Homo sapiens: one gene and its partners. The protein of the gene in region 1 purifies or fractionates together with the protein of each later gene. This does not show direct contact. Each region holds a gene or a part of one and is shown in the gene's direction. Other genes may lie near its edges.

Region 1 (4,852 bases):
ACAAACCAGACAGGATCCTAGCCCTTGTGGAGCCCCTTGATGTGCAGGAAAGGAGAGTTAGGAAAGGAGGATTTCAACCCTGACTCTGCAGGTCATTGGCGGGGTGACTTTGGGTAACTCGTTGCTCCTCTGGAAGCCTCAGTTTGCCCATCTGAGCAGTGAGATCATAATTCCAACCCTACCTATAGGATCAGTTGAAAGGATGGTGGTGGAAGTGCTTTATGGTTGTAAAGTGCCATACTCTGCCTAGTTTCTGGCCTCATCATTCTGACTGATATCTTGCTCTTCCTGCAGGGCTGCCCAGGAGCTGCAGGACAAGCACCAGGAGCCCCTCCGGGTAGCTACTACCCTGGACCCCCCAATAGTGGAGGGCAGTATGGTAGTGGGCTACCCCCTGGTGGTGGTTATGGGGGTCCTGCCCCTGGAGGGCCTTATGGACCACCAGCTGGTGGAGGGCCCTATGGACACCCCAATCCTGGGATGTTCCCCTCTGGAACTCCAGGAGGACCATATGGCGGTGCAGCTCCCGGGGGCCCCTATGGTCAGCCACCTCCAAGTTCCTACGGTGCCCAGCAGCCTGGGCTTTATGGACAGGGTAAGTAGTAATCTTGGACTCCGGGTACCTCTGACGTGGTTCTGAGTTATCCATGGCCAGCCTTTGTCCTTCCTGTGGGTGTGCAGGCAGCCTGGTCTCTGGCACCTTAGCATCTTGCTTCCAGCTTCAGTGTGTATCCTCAAAATGATAAGTTTGTCAGCTAGTTTTGTTGCAAGCATTTATTTGTATTGCTTGCTCATGCTTACTTTCTTTTGCTTACATGTCAGCAGCTGTTAGCTGGCTGTTGAGTTTCTGTTCCCTGTGTCTTTTTCATTCAGGGATACATGCTGAAGGAGCAGCTCCTGTTTGGGATATGTTATCTTTGTGGCAGAGAGAAGGAGCAGGAGAGCTAGCAAGAATGCACAATGCCTCTTAAAGCTTCTCTGAAGTACTGTATGTCTTGCCCACTTGCATTCTTTTGGCCAGAGCACCCCCTGATCAAGACTGACATCAGTAGGATGGGAAAGGATGCCCCTCTGCAAGCCACCAGGCAGTGGGAGAGGATGTACAATGCTCTTATAGGGAAGGGGAGATTAGCAAGTAATCTAATAATAGATTATTGAACTGGCCTTTTAAACCATTGTACCATATTAGTACAATGTCTGTGGGTGTGCAGACTGTGTCTCCTGGCTAGAGATTATTAGCCAGGAGACGATAATGTAGCCTACCATGGGGAGAAACTCAGTTTAAATATCCGTTTCTCTGTGAAAATATCTCAGAAGACACACATTCCAGGCTCTTTGCTGAGGATTTTATTTTGCTGTTATCTCATTTAATCATCACAACAATTCTGGGGAAATGGGTTCATTTTAGAAATGTGAAAATCATTACTCAGAAAATTGTACATTTTGCCTAAAGTCACACAAGCTAGTAAGGATCAGATCCAGGGTTTGAATCCAGGTCTGCTTTGATTCCAAAGCCTGAGCCCTTCTATACAAACTACACAGTTCAAACATGTCACAGAATCTCTCCTGCCCTGGGGCTGTGGCCCTTGCTCCCCTATGACACCGATGTTTTAGGAAGATGGCTAGAACCTGCCCGGATTTTTCCAAGGAAGTCAGACTAATCCCTAAGTCAGGCATACCTTTTTCCCTCTGTCCTTACTGGGCTTTGGTACTAGGCAGTGGTTTCTGTCCTCCACAACTGCCCATGGCTGTCTTTGTGTGAAGGGACCCCGATTGTGGCCAGTTAACTCAGTGTCCTAAGGTAGACAGACTTACCAGCTTCTACACTGTTTTTTTTGGGTTTTTTTGTTTTTTTTTTTTTGAGATGGAGTTTCGCTTTTGTTGCCCAGGCTGGAGTGCAATGGCGTGATCTTGGCTCACCACAACCTCCACCTCCCGGGTTCAAGCGATTCTCCTGCTTCAGCCTCCCCAGTAGCTGGGATTACAGGCATGTGCCACCATGCCCGGCTAATTTTCTATTTTTAGTAGAGACGGGGTTTCTCCATGTTGGTCAAGCTGGTCTCAAACTCCCGACCTCAGGTGATCCGCCTGCCTCGGCTTCCCAAAGTGCTGGGATTACAGTCGTGAGCCACTGTGCCTGGCCACTTCTACACTTTTATCTACCACCCATTCCCCCATCTCGCAGTTTACCTTTTCCAGAGAATTCTTGAAATGCTACAGGGGTACAGGTCCCCGTTCCTTAAAAACATAAAATCAATTAAGAGTAGTGTCTGGAACACTATACGAGAACTCCAGAGGACTCATGGAATAGAAATCAACTGCAAATACTCATGAATCTTCACTGAAGGTCCTCTTCCATCAGAGTAAGAATGTCAGCTTGATGGAAGACAGGGAAGGTGAATTTGTGAAGCTTCGTGTGTAGGAGAAACCTGTAGCCAGGAAGTTACTGAGGCTGGCCCTTCCTGGCATTTCTGTTGATGGCCTTCACACCCCTTCCTCCAGGTGGCGCCCCTCCCAATGTGGATCCTGAGGCCTACTCCTGGTTCCAGTCGGTGGACTCAGATCACAGTGGCTATATCTCCATGAAGGAGCTAAAGCAGGCCCTGGTCAACTGCAATTGGTCTTCATTCAATGATGAGACCTGCCTCATGATGATAAGTGAGTCTCCGCCTTGCCCTTGGGCCTGAGCTGGGGCAGAGCCACCTGATAGTGGACAGTAGGTGGGTAGGTGGGTGGGTGGACATTCTGAAGAGAAATTCATTGACCAGGGAGGACTGTGGGGAGGAAGCTAGGTTCAGGGTGAGATCCCCTAGACTGAGAGCTCTTTTCCTGAGATCTTTCTTAAGTTCTAGACCCTGCCTAGTTACAGGTTAACTTAGTTTCCTCTTCTGTAGAATGGTACTCCCTCCCCTGTAGGAAACAGCAGGGAGGGGTCAGGTGCCAAGCCTGCAGAGAAAATGCAGTTCTGGATGGGGTGGGGCTAAAGGTGTCCAGAGTAGGAGGACGGTGCAACGCTTGATGTGGGTGTCTCAGGTGCAGGCATCTGGGCCTCAGGGCTTGGTTCTGTGAAGTCGCCTACTCCAGCCTGGAGAGAAGGGCTGCCTCAATGGGTCCTGAGGGGGACCCTTGGCCTTCAGTCTTGAAGCCTTCCTCCCCTCCTTTCCCTCCTCACCTTCAGACATGTTTGACAAGACCAAGTCAGGCCGCATCGATGTCTACGGCTTCTCAGCCCTGTGGAAATTCATCCAGCAGTGGAAGAACCTCTTCCAGCAGTATGACCGGGACCGCTCGGGCTCCATTAGCTACACAGAGCTGCAGCAAGGTGCGGGTCATGGCCGGGGCACGATGGGCAGGACAGAGCTAGACTCTTCTCTTTACACCCTAAGATACAACAAAGGGGTTTCCTCTTGTTACCGAATGTCCACCTGCACTACAAAATGCTGTTCTCAGTGCAGGCCTGCATCCCTCACCCCTTCTTTGACCCAGCTGGGGCACTGAGCCAAGAGCCAGGGCAAGGAAACACCTGGGTCCAGAATCAGGGCTGGACCCTGGAGTGCTGGGTGAGACGGCCCCAGCCACAGGGAGCCTTAAGGATGGAAACTTGGCACCTTAAGGACTATGAGACCAGTGTGTGTGGCTTGGGTGACTCCTTTCTCTCCAGTTTCTAGCATGTAGAATGGAAAGAGCCCTGAACAGGGCTCAGAAAGATGGGTCTGTTGCCACCTCTGCTAGTGGACAGTTTCTTTCCCAACTTTTGGGACCCTGAGCACTCTAAAAGTTGCAGTTGGGGAAGATGACCTGAGGCCACAGCCCCAGGTCTGGTTCCAAACTGACTGTGTAAGGCAGAAGGCCACAGTTTGGGCTCAGGCAGGTTAGTAAGAGGTTGGGGGAGGACCCAAGAGGGAGCTTTGCCACCCAGGAGGGAGAAAGGGCTCCCCAGAGAGTCTAGTCCTTTGCCCAGGCTGTGGATTTCATTCAGACTAAGGAGGTCTGTGGGCAGGAGTGAGTGCACCACATCTGCCCCCAGTAAAAGGGAGGGGAGATGACCTATAGTAATCACCTACTCTTGCCAGCTTTTGTCGTGGATATTAGTAAGGGTGATATTAACCACAACAAAACGTATTTACTGAATGCTTGCTATTTTTAATAGGCTTATGTAATTCATTCTTCCCATGTGCTAGGTACTATTTATAATTCCACACCCTTCAATGAAGAATCCCTTATAATCTCCCTTTTACCGGTGAGAAAACTGAGGTTTAGTGTAGGTAACCTGCCCAAGGGCCCGCATAACAAATGGAGAGCTGAGGTTTTAGCCTGGCCTGGTAAGTTCTGAACAGAGGAAGGAAGGAAGCATCCCAGTGAAGAGACAGGATGCTCCAAGAGACCTTGGAGTGACAGTGACTTTATTAAAATAGCATTTACCAAGTGCTTTTTCTGTGCCAGTCACTGTGCTAAGTGCTTTACATGATCACCCGTTTTAATCCTTACTAGAACCTACAAGTTAAGTATTATCCCCATTTTAGAGATGATAAGATAGGGATAGTGAGGCTAAGCAACTTGCCCAGTGGCTGACTCCAGAGCAGGTCCTCATACCTCTGCTGTACTGCCTCTGATGTCTGCCCCAGGCAAGGTGGTCCTGGGAGCTCAGGCTTCCTTTTGGAATGCAAACGAATCAGAGATGATTGCGGATAGTCCGTTGTCGTCTCTGCAATCCCCTGAGCCTCAGTTGAAGAGACAATAATGGAGATTTGGAGAAAGAGGGATGAGGGCCTTCCACCTAAGGGGAGCATCCAGACACGGTCCCTGTTGTGTTTCTGACATCTTAGACAGACCCTTGGGATTTCTCTACCCT
Region 2 (3,564 bases), on another chromosome or scaffold:
AACAATGATGTTTCCTGTGACCACCCCTCTAACACCGTGCCCTCTGGGAGCAACCAGGACCTGGGAGCTGGGGCCGGGGAAGACGCCCGGTCGGATGACAGCAGCAGCCGCATCATCAATGGATCCGACTGCGATATGCACACCCAGCCGTGGCAGGCCGCGCTGTTGCTAAGGCCCAACCAGCTCTACTGCGGGGCGGTGTTGGTGCATCCACAGTGGCTGCTCACGGCCGCCCACTGCAGGAAGAAGTGAGTGGGAGTTCCAAGAGGAGGGTTGGTGGGGACGGGGAAGTGGGGGTGGGGGTGGGGAAGTGGGGGTGGGGGTGTCATGGAGGTGAGGGCTGGTGGGGACGGGGAAGTGGGGTTGGGGGTGTCATGGAAGGTGAGGGTTGGTGGGGATGGGTTGGGGATGTGGGAGCAGGAGGAGGTCGAGTTGGGGATAGGACTAAGGATGGAGTTTTGCGGGGGAGCAAGGTGGGAGGATGAGGTTGGAGAGGGGAGAGTGTTGTGGTAGGGAATGGGAAGGAGCCAAGGATGGGTTGGATTTGGGGTTAGGAGCATATATTTGTTGAATGGTTTGGGATGGAGGTGGAATTGGGATTGGCTTTAGAATTGGGGGTGGGTGAAAATCGGGCTGGGGTGGAAATGAAGATAGCATGGAGATAGGGTTGAGATTGGGAGCAGATATAGAATGAAGGATGGGGATTGGAGTTTTGGGTGGGGTTGGAGATGGTTGGATTTGGGCTTGAGAATGCATATGGTGATGGCTTCTGGGTAGGGAAAGAATTAGGGTTGGGAATGGGATGGGTTTGGAATTGTGACTGGGATGGGGACAGGCATGGGATTGGAGACCAAGAGGGAGTTGAGGATGGTTTGGGGACCGGGGGTGGGGATGGGGGTGGGGCTGGGGCTGGGTGTGGGGTTGGGATTGGCGTTGGACGTGGAGATAGAGATCAGGGTTGGTGGTGACCTGCCCCATCTTCCTCAGAGTTTTCAGAGTCCGTCTCGGCCACTACTCCCTGTCACCAGTTTATGAATCTGGGCAGCAGATGTTCCAGGGGGTCAAATCCATCCCCCACCCTGGCTACTCCCACCCTGGCCACTCTAACGACCTCATGCTCATCAAACTGAACAGAAGAATTCGTCCCACTAAAGATGTCAGACCCATCAACGTCTCCTCTCATTGTCCCTCTGCTGGGACAAAGTGCTTGGTGTCTGGCTGGGGGACAACCAAGAGCCCCCAAGGTGAGTGTCCAGGTTCTTCTTGATACCGACCCATCTCTGCCGCCTTCCATCTTTCTCCACTTCTCATTGTGTTCCTGTTTGACAGTGCACTTCCCTAAGGTCCTCCAGTGCTTGAATATCAGCGTGCTAAGTCAGAAAAGGTGCGAGGATGCTTACCCGAGACAGATAGATGACACCATGTTCTGCGCCGGTGACAAAGCAGGTAGAGACTCCTGCCAGGTGAGGACACCTCTCTTTATTCAGCAGATACACACTGAGTGCCAACTCGGTAACATGGAGCGTTGCCAAATTCTGAGAATCCAGCAATTGCCAAGACAGTCAGGACCCCTGTTCTCACAGAGCTCATACCCTAGAGTAGTGGTGTTTAGTAGAAATAATGCTGAGCTGCTTATGTCATTTCCAGTTTTTTAGTAGCCACATTAAAACAGGTAAAAAAGGCTGGGCGCAGTGGCTCACACCTGTAATCCCAGCACTTTGGGAGGCTGAGGCAGGCAGATCACCTTTGGTCAGGAGTTTGAGACTAGCCTGGCCAACATGGCGAAACTCTGTCTCTAAAAAAAAATACAAAAATTAGCCTGGCATGGTGGCGGGCGCCTGTAATCTCAGCTGCTCAGGAGGCCGAGACACAAGAATCACTTAAACCCAGGAGGTGGAGGTTGCAGTGAGCTGAGATCGTGCCACTCACTCCAACCTGGGAGACAGAGTGACACTTTTGTCTCAAAAAGAAAAAAAAAAACAAGTAAAAAAGAAACAGGTGAAGTTAACTTTAATAACCCAATGTATCCCAAATACAATCATTTCAAAGTGTAATTAATATAAAACAATTATGAATGAGATACTTTACATTCTTTTCTTGTTTTCATATTAAGTCTTTGAAAGTGAGTATATATGTTATGCTGACAGCACATCTCAATTTGGACTAGCTACATTTCAGGTGCTCAGTAGCCACATGTGGCTAGCAGTTACTGTATTGGATGGCACGGATCTAGAGGGAAAGATCAGGGCTGTTTTGTATGGTTGGGCAGGTTGTGCACTGCATAAAGATACCATATCTAATAGGGGCACTCCGTGTTACAGATGTCAGTTTTGGCAGTTTTCAGGCGTGTGGTAGTTAAGTGTCTTGTTTCAACAAAATCTGTAATATGACAGTTTTCTAGCAAGTGCTGGTAAAATATCTTGAGGAAGGAAAAGAGAAATCTGGTAGGTATTTTTACAAGAGAATATTTAATACAGGGGATTAATTGCAAAGCTGCTGGAAGGGCTGGAGGAACAAAGTTAAAAAATAAAAAACTCTGTGGTCAAGAATCTGCATAAATAGGGCAATTTCAGAGAGTGGTAAAGGTTAACCCCAAAATAAAACATGGTTTTAGGATAGTAAACAATAAGGGCCAATATTCAAAAAGGTGGTCAGGGGAGCCTCCTTGGAGAGGTGGCATTTGAGCAGAGAATGGATGACACAAAGAAGCTAAACTCGTGAAGTTTAAGGGGAAAGAAAAGGCACGTGCAAAGGCCCTGAGGCAGTAAGGAATTTGGCTGATTCAAAGAAGAAGAGGAAACCAATGCAACTGGAGAACAAAAGTGGGGGCAACAGTAGAAAGTGACGCTGGAGGTGTAGGCAGGGGCGAATGCTCTGCAAGTATTTCTTGGTCACCAACACAGAGCTTCCCTATGTTCTAATGGAAGCTGTATCTGTTGAGGAAGACAGAATTTAAAATCAAACTGTTACATCAACCAGCACCCTTCTCTGTATTCAGGCTCCCAAGGGATCTAGAAGGACGTAAGTTAACAAGCTCTCATTAGCAGGGTGTGTGTTTCAACAGTAGTTAGGAAGCTGGGGATTCAGGAGTACTCCAGTCCCATGGCTATGAAAAGCTCCCCCCAAATTGTACAAACCTGACAAATGCAACACCTCCCCAGCTCTCCCCATTTCTTCTCTGTGCCCTGGGTGTGGGGGGGTGGGTTGCGAGGGGGAAAACTTTTAACAGAAGAAAGCACATCTCGGCCGGGCGTGGTGGCTCACACCTGTAATCCCAACACTTTGGGAGGCCGAGGCGGGTGGATCACTAGGTCAGGAGATGGAGACCATCCTGGCTGACACGGTGAAACCCTGTCTCTACTAAAAACACAAAAAATTAGCCGGGCGTGGTGGCAGGCGCCTGTAGTCCCAGCTACTCGGGAGGCTGAGGCAGGAGAATGGCCTGAACCCGGGAGGCGGAACTTGCAGTGAGCCGAGGTTGCACCACTGCACTCCAGCCTGGGCAACACAGTGAGACTCCGTCTCAAAAAAAAAAAAAGAAAAGAAAAGAAATCACATCTCATT
Region 3 (3,564 bases), on another chromosome or scaffold:
GCCTCAGCCTCCCAAAGTGCTGGGATTACAGACATGAGCTACTGCACCTGGCTGGAACCTGTTCTTTTATCCACAAAAGCTCATTTGACAGGAGGTTTGTAAAGGTGATTTCAGTATTGACAAGGGTTTTATTGTGGGGTGGGACAACACTGAATGAGACTGAGTGACTTGGTACCAGCATAACATTATTTCTTCGTGGTAGTAGGTGATCTCCTGACCTCCCCACTCCTACTCATCTGCCTCTTAGGGTTTTTTTTTTTTTCTGTCCCTAACTTGATGGCATAAGACTCCTTCCTGGGGTCTGCCTCTCCACCCCCACCAGATGTGGGATGCTTGGTGTCTCTGCTGAATATAGGCAGAGAAGAATTTGGATGGGAGTGCTGGGCTGCATCATTGTGGAACTTCAAAGCGTTCCCTTAATATTTTGGGGAGTACAGTGTTGGTGTAGAGTTAGGCAGCTCATACGTTTCCTTTTAAAAGTTTGCATAGCCTGGATACACAGCTTGAAGAACCTCAGCAGGAATGATGTATGTGAAAATTGCATTCCATTTTATAATACATTAGTATGTTTTAAGACAAAAATCGTTTAGACTGACAAGCCATTCATTATAATCGATAATGCTGTTTTTTTTGGAGTCCACTTTGAGAAGTGCTCCTTTGTAGAAGTCCTTGAAACTAGAATCAGGAAAGCTAGCTACATCCTGTTCCTTACATAAATTGTTGAGAAATCTTGGGAGAGTCACTTCACCTCTTGTCAGCTGAGAAGATTGATTGGAGGTTACAGATTAGAGTTCTCTTCCAGCCCTATGTTCTGTGACTCTAGAATGAGTACTGAGAACATGTGATAGTTGGGAGGTTGGCAGTGGTAGCACTTCCTGGTGGTGTGAATGGGTAGGTCAGAGAAGGCTGGATGTACTGAGTGAGCAGAGGCAGCTGCATGGTGAGGACTATCAAGTCTGGGGGTTCTGTGTTCGAAGTCTCAGGTGTTAGGAGAGAGAGATCTTGTTGCTTTGCTTTTGTGGAGTTAAGATGAAGATCTGGAGTATCAGCAGGATGAGCAACTCTGAAAGCATGGACTCAAAGCGGTAGAGACCCTAATGTTAGAATGAAGTCAGGGCTTCAGGTTATCTGCAGAAGTAAAAATGGTTCTGGTGTTGTTTCCAGTTTTTAACCTTTTAGGATTTTATTGATTTTTTTTTTTCCCCTCTGCCTACATCATCATCTCCCCACACTGTTTGGTGTGTGCTGCGTAGTTTTTTACTTCTTTTGCCAGCAGGAGCTGGGGCAAGTTACGTAACCTTTCCAAGCCTTATTTTTTTCTCATTTTTGAAATGTTGATGCTGTCTTCTTCACAGTATTTTTGTGAGGGTTTTGAGAGAATGTTTGTAAAATAATTTGACACAGTTAGTCTGTTAGCACCCTTTTGACTGCCCGCGCAGTGCACAGAACATTGTTATTTAATACCTGTCCGCATTCTAGCCCTTTGGAATCTGACTCCCACCCATGTCCCAGGTTGCTGTCTCAGCCTTTCCTTCCTCCAGTTATTGCAAGAGCTTTTGCCCTTCCTTGACAAGCCTATTCTTAGAGCTGTGGCATTTCCTCCAGTGGTTCCCTGTGGAAGATGTGCCTCTCATTCAGGGTCTAACTGGGATCCTCCTTGTTCCAAGAAGTCTCCCTAGATTTCTTTCGCCAGACATGCTCATTCCCACCCATACCCTGACAGGGAATTGAGGGCCTTGTCATGCCCCCTCTTGTATCAGAGTTTTCATGTGTGGGTATGTCTTGACTGTACTTTTTTGGTAGAGAGGTCCCAGCACCTTCATGGGTGTGACTGTTTCCCAGAAAATGTTAAGAACTTGTTTACACACCAGAATTTTGAGTTCTTAGGAGGCAGCAGAAATCATTTTGATGTTTTTTGTGCGTGCGTGTTTCTTGCACACTGTAGGCGCATAGTAGATGTTTGTTGAATTGAATGTCCATGCAGTGTGGTGAAAAACAGCAGCAGTCCTGTAAACCTGGTTCCATTTTGGGAATTGAAGTTCAGCCATATTTTCATGTTTCATTTGTGAGTCTGAATTTTGGTGCCTTTATAACCCACAGTTGTACCAGGACCGTGTATTCTTTGCATTGTGAACAAGACTGGGGTCTGTAAAATAATGACAACAAAGACCATCTAACTGTACATCTTTTAGGTATGTAAATATTGTTAGCCTTGGCTTATAAGTTTCTGATTTTGTTGATTTTGGAATCCTCCTGTTAAACACTGTTTACCTGTCAGCTTTTGGTGAAGTGGCAGTGCATTTCCATTTTGCCAGTGGGAAAACTTGTCAGTTTCTGACTTTTAGTTCTCTCCTTCACAGATTTTACGACATTTCTACAAGATATGTGGTACAGTATTGGGCAGATGAACTGATTGCTGGATTGGTGTTTGATTTTAGGTATTCAAAACCTTTGACCACATGGCCCGTCAGGATGATGAGAAGAGAAGGCAGGAACTTGAAGAGAAAATCAGAAGAAAGGAAGAGGAAGAGGCCAAGACTGTGTCAGCTGCTGCAGCTGAGAAGGAGCCAGTCCCAGTTCCAGTCCAGGAAATAGAGATTGACTCCACCACAGAATTGGATGGGCATCAGGAAGTAGAGAAAGTGCAGCCTCCAGGCCCTGTGAAGGAAATGGCCCATGGTTCACAGGAGGCAGAAGCTCCAGGAGCAGTTGCTGGTGCTGCTGAAGTCCCTAGGGAACCACCAATTCTTCCCAGGTGGGAATTTCTACTTTGCAGCTTCCTTCTTTCTTGCGTAACATCTGGTGTTTGGGTTTCTCCATAATTTATTCTTACTTTGTAACACATTAATTCTTGATCTCAGTATTTATTTAGCTCTTCATGTTTGTAAACTGCTGCATTACAGTCTTTCAGTTATGTAGGATGGGAGGTCAGTTGGCTTAAGGTCAGTTCCCTCATTTGGTAAGGTCAGTAGTCATACAACCATTTGAGATCCAGAGCCAAAATTAGAGCACTTGACTCCTCTCACAAAGACCTAACTTTATCTGTGTTTAGAGGCTTAGCCTCAGCAGCTCGATTGTTTGTGTTTTTCTCTCTGCAGGAGCACTGCTAGGATTTGCTCATGATGCCTGAGGTATAATGGACACCTGAAATGACAGTCTGTTTTAGGTGACTGGATTCACATCCTCGCTATGCCGCTTCCTGAATGTATTACCTTGAACAAGCAGTATAACCTTTCTGTGTCTCAGTTTTCTTCTCTATAAAATGTAGGTGATAATAATAGTACCTGTCTCATAGAGCTGTTGTGAATTTTAAATGAGCCGATAGTCAAGCAGCTAATGAGCAGTAGAGCTTGAATATGACATGAGGTTTCCCTGAATCAAGCCTCTTGCTTTATGTACTTGTACTCACTTTTTAGGAGTTATGTTTTGTGGGTGCTCTAAACTTAGTTATACAGTCCTTCCTTACAGTCTGAGTGAGAGGAGCTGATCCCTTCTTGTGTGGGAGTTGTAGTAGTGTCTGCAAGACAGCCACGAGCCTCCTGGCCTGCTTTGTTTTTTTGGAAA
Region 4 (3,564 bases), on another chromosome or scaffold:
GAGAGCCCTCCACTGAGAAAGCGCAGCCCTGGATCTAGGCCTGAGGAATTTGGAGCAGAGGGGATGGGGTCACATCCAGGATCTGCTGAAAATTTGGGGGTGTCGAGGTCAGTGAGGGAAGCCTGAGTCCCACGGGAGCAGGTGGCAGTCCAGCTGTTTACATGCTAGAATGTTCTATTGAACACCCACTGTGAGCCATGTGCAGATGCCCCCCCACACTCAGTGCTGGGAGCACAGAAATGACTCATATCTGGCCTCAGTCTGTTTGGATAGACAGACGGTATGGCCAGTGCTATGGAGCCATCAGTGCTGTGATGGTGGGAAGAGGAGCAGGGCGGCGGTGGTGGGGGGAGTGCAGAAGGTGACATCTGGCGGGCGGGTTGTAGGACAGAGAGAGCGGGCAGCAGTGGGCTGAGGACACGCCCCGTGGAGGGACCAGTGAGTGCAGAGTGGGAGGGTGTGTGACGAGTGCCACATGGGACCTGCCAGACTAGGCCGATGGAGATTGCGGGGCCTGGTGGGTGGGTCCTGGGGCTGCCCCAACTTGGCATTTTTCCCAGCTTGTCGGGCTGCAGTGCTGAGGGTGGCCTGCAGGGGGCAGGCTGGAGGCGCTGATGGGGAGACGGGGAGACCCCCCCTGGCAAAAGCCCTGAGCGCTCGGTGGAGGTGGGGGACCCGCGGAGTCGCCTGCGCACTGCAAGTCCTCTGCGGGAGCCTGGCTACTTCCCGCCCCCTCCCCATGCCCATCCCGCTGGTACCCGGTTGCCATAGCAACCAGCCGGGCCTCCTGCACCTAGCAGGGGAGCGTGGATGGGCAGGAGCTGCAGTGTCAGGGGGACAGGATGCCAGGAACCCCGAGTGCTCCAGGGCCCAAGGGACATCCCCAGTCCAGCCTTTCCCAGGGAGGGATGTCCTGGATTCCCTGCCCTCTGTTTCCTCCAGCCCTGGACAAAACGCTCTGTGTTCCTGGGCAGCCCATTGTGTGCCTTTGGCAGGAGGGGGACCTGGCTCTGTGTGCTGCTGGCTCTGCGCTGGTGGCCGGAGCCCTGTGTCTCACGGTCACGTGACACCTCAGGATCCTAAGGTGCCGATCACCTTCACACCCACTCAGAAAACCAAAGCTCAGAGACGGGGAGGAAGCTTCCTGGGGTCACACAGTTTGCCAGCGGCGAAGCCCTGTCCCCAGTCTCACTTTTTCCTTTTTAGTAGATTGTTTTCAATATAACGTCTATACAGAAAAACACAGACGTGTACACAGTTTGATTCTTCTTAGACTGAACACCTGGTTTCACCAGCCCCCAGATACAGAGTGTGATGAGAACACCGAGGCCCCTTCACCCCACCCCAGGGCTCAACCTCCCCCTGGGCAGCTGCTGCTCTGTCTCCTCAAACTTCCCGGGCGGGTTCTGCCTGTTCTCACAGCTCCTGCATGTGGAGTCGGTGGGTTCTGCCTGTTCTTACAGCTCGTGCGTGTGGAGTCGGTGGTTCTGCCTGTTCTCACAGCTCCTGCGTGTGGAGTTGGGTTCTGCCTGTTCTCACAGCTCGTGTGTGTGGAGTTGGCGGGTTCTACCTGTTCTTACAGCTCGTGCATGTGGAGTCGGTGGTTCTGCCTGTTCTCACAGCTCATGTGTGTGGAGTCGGTGGTTCTGCCTGTTCTCACAGCTCATACATTGGAATCGGGCAGTATATGTTGTTTCAGGCTTCTTTCTCCGCATGTCATGTTTGTGAGTCATGCCTGTTGACACAGGTGGTTGTAATCTGGTCTCACTGCTGTGTAATGCCTGCAGAGTGTACCATGGCGGCCTGGCCACCCTCCTGTCAGTGGGTACCGGGCAGCTCCCAGTGTCCTCTTGGGCCTGGCTTTGGTGCGCACACGGACACCTTTCTGATGGGGAACCTGCTCTTTCGCCTGCCTGTGCTGTGGTGCTGCCCCGAACAGCCGTGTGATCGTGCCCCCGAGCCTTTCATTCACTGAGTCCACAGCGCTTTGCTGAGCAAAAGCAAATGAACAGGTCAATGAAGCGAGACCAGGAGGAACAGCAGAGTCTTGTGAACCCCAGGACTCTCAGCTCAGGGGCTCGGGGTGACTGCAGAACCATACAGGCGGTGGAAGTGGGGCCCCCCGACCCGGGGACGTCTGTTTCTCGCTCCTAGGCAAGGTTGGCCTCTTGCACCTCTTTCCATAGATCCCAGCTCTGCCTTTGGGGGGTGCAGGCCTGTGCACCTGCAAGAGGGCCCAGCAGTGCCCAGCCCCTCGGAGCCCGAGTCAGTGAGAGCACCCAGGACCGGGACCAGAGGCCCCCAGTCAGCACAGCTGCTTCAAAATTGAAAGCCAGGCTGGGCGCGGTGGCTCACGCCTGTAATCCCTGCACTTTGGGAGGCCGAGGTGGGTAGATCACTTGAGGTCAGGAGTTTGAGATCAGCTTGGCCAACATGGTGAAACCCCGTCTCTATTAAAAAAAAAAAAAAAAAATTACGTGTGGTGGCAGACGCCTATAATCCCAGGTACTTGGGAGGCTGGGGCAGGAGAATCACGTGAACCCAGGAGGTAGAGGTTGCAGTGAGCCAAGATTGTGCCACTGTACTCCAGCCCGGGTGACAAAGCAAGACTTCATCTCAAAAAAATAAAAAAATAAGAAATAAATTGAGGCCGGGTGCAGTGGCTCATGCCTGTAATCCCTGCACTTTGGGAGGCCGAGGTGGGTAGATCACTTGAGGTCAGGAGTTCGAGATCAGCCTGGCCAACATGGTGAAACCCCCTCTCTATTAAAAATACAGAAAAAAATTAGCCAGGTGTGGTGGCAGACACCTGTAATCCCAGCTACTTGGGAGGCTGGGGCAGGAGAATCACATGAACCCAGGAGGTAGAGGTTGCAGTGAGCCAAGATTGTGCCACTGTACTCCAGCCCGGGTGACAGAGCGAGACTCCGTCTCAAAACAATAAATAAGAAATAAATTGAGGCCGGGCACGGTGGCCCATGCTTGTAATCCCAGCACTTTAGGAGGCCGAGGTGGGCAGATCACCTGAGGTCAGGAGTTCGAGACCAGCCTGGCCAACATGGTGAAATCCTGTCTCTACCAAAAATACAAAAAGTAGACAGGTGTGGTGGCACGTGCCTGTAATCCCAGCTACTCAGGAGGCTGAGGCAGGAGAATCATTAGAATCCAGGAGGCGGAGACTGCAGTGAGCCAAGATGTGTTGCACTGTAGCCTGGGTGACGGATGGAGTGAGATTCTGTCTCAAAAAAAAAAAAAAATTGGAAGCCAGTCTCCCAGGAGAGGTGTAGACATGCTTTGGTTTCTCTCTGATATGTATTTATTATTGATCTTCAGTAAATTTGACTCTGATCTGTTAACATGGGGCTAATGATACCTGCATTGCAGGGTTGCTTTAAAAGGATTAATAATTTGTAAAATGTGTAGCCCAGACCCCGCCGTCCACTAAGAGCTCAGTAGGTGTCACTATTATCATTGATGCCACTTAGCAAATATGAGCTCTTTAAATCATTATGACAACTTTGAGGGGAAGATGCCCTTAGTCCATTGTACAGATGAAGAAACTGA

What was found. The genes of interacting proteins can lie anywhere in the genome.
Region 2: the proteins of PEF1 (region 1) and KLK5 purify together in Homo sapiens (co-immunoprecipitation; one large-scale study listed by IntAct). This does not show direct contact.
Region 3: the proteins of PEF1 (region 1) and NUDCD3 purify together in Homo sapiens (affinity purification with mass spectrometry; 2 studies listed by BioGRID and IntAct, with this or other methods). This does not show direct contact.
Region 4: the proteins of PEF1 (region 1) and KIAA0930 purify together in Homo sapiens (affinity purification with mass spectrometry; 3 studies listed by BioGRID and IntAct, with this or other methods). This does not show direct contact.

What each region holds. Positions count from the first base shown.
Region 1 is NC_000001.11:31,630,965-31,635,816, reverse strand, and holds part of PEF1 (peflin), read left to right. Parts: intron 1-294; coding exon 295-595; intron 596-873; coding exon of another isoform or gene 874-971; exon of another isoform or gene 972-1,151; intron 1,152-1,324; exon of another isoform or gene 1,325-2,502; coding exon 2,503-2,658; exon of another isoform or gene 2,659-3,178; coding exon 3,179-3,322; coding exon of another isoform or gene 3,323-3,381; intron 3,382-4,852. UniProt on the Homo sapiens protein: Calcium-binding protein that acts as an adapter that bridges unrelated proteins or stabilizes weak protein-protein complexes in response to calcium.
Region 2 is NC_000019.10:50,946,539-50,950,102, reverse strand, and holds part of KLK5 (kallikrein-5 preproprotein), read left to right. Parts: coding exon 1-248; intron 249-987; coding exon 988-1,244; intron 1,245-1,329; coding exon 1,330-1,463; intron 1,464-3,564. UniProt on the Homo sapiens protein: May be involved in desquamation.
Region 3 is NC_000007.14:44,484,159-44,487,722, reverse strand, and holds part of NUDCD3 (nudC domain-containing protein 3), read left to right. Parts: intron 1-2,438; coding exon 2,439-2,755; intron 2,756-3,564.
Region 4 is NC_000022.11:45,206,395-45,209,958, reverse strand, and holds part of KIAA0930 (uncharacterized protein KIAA0930), read left to right. Parts: intron 1-3,564.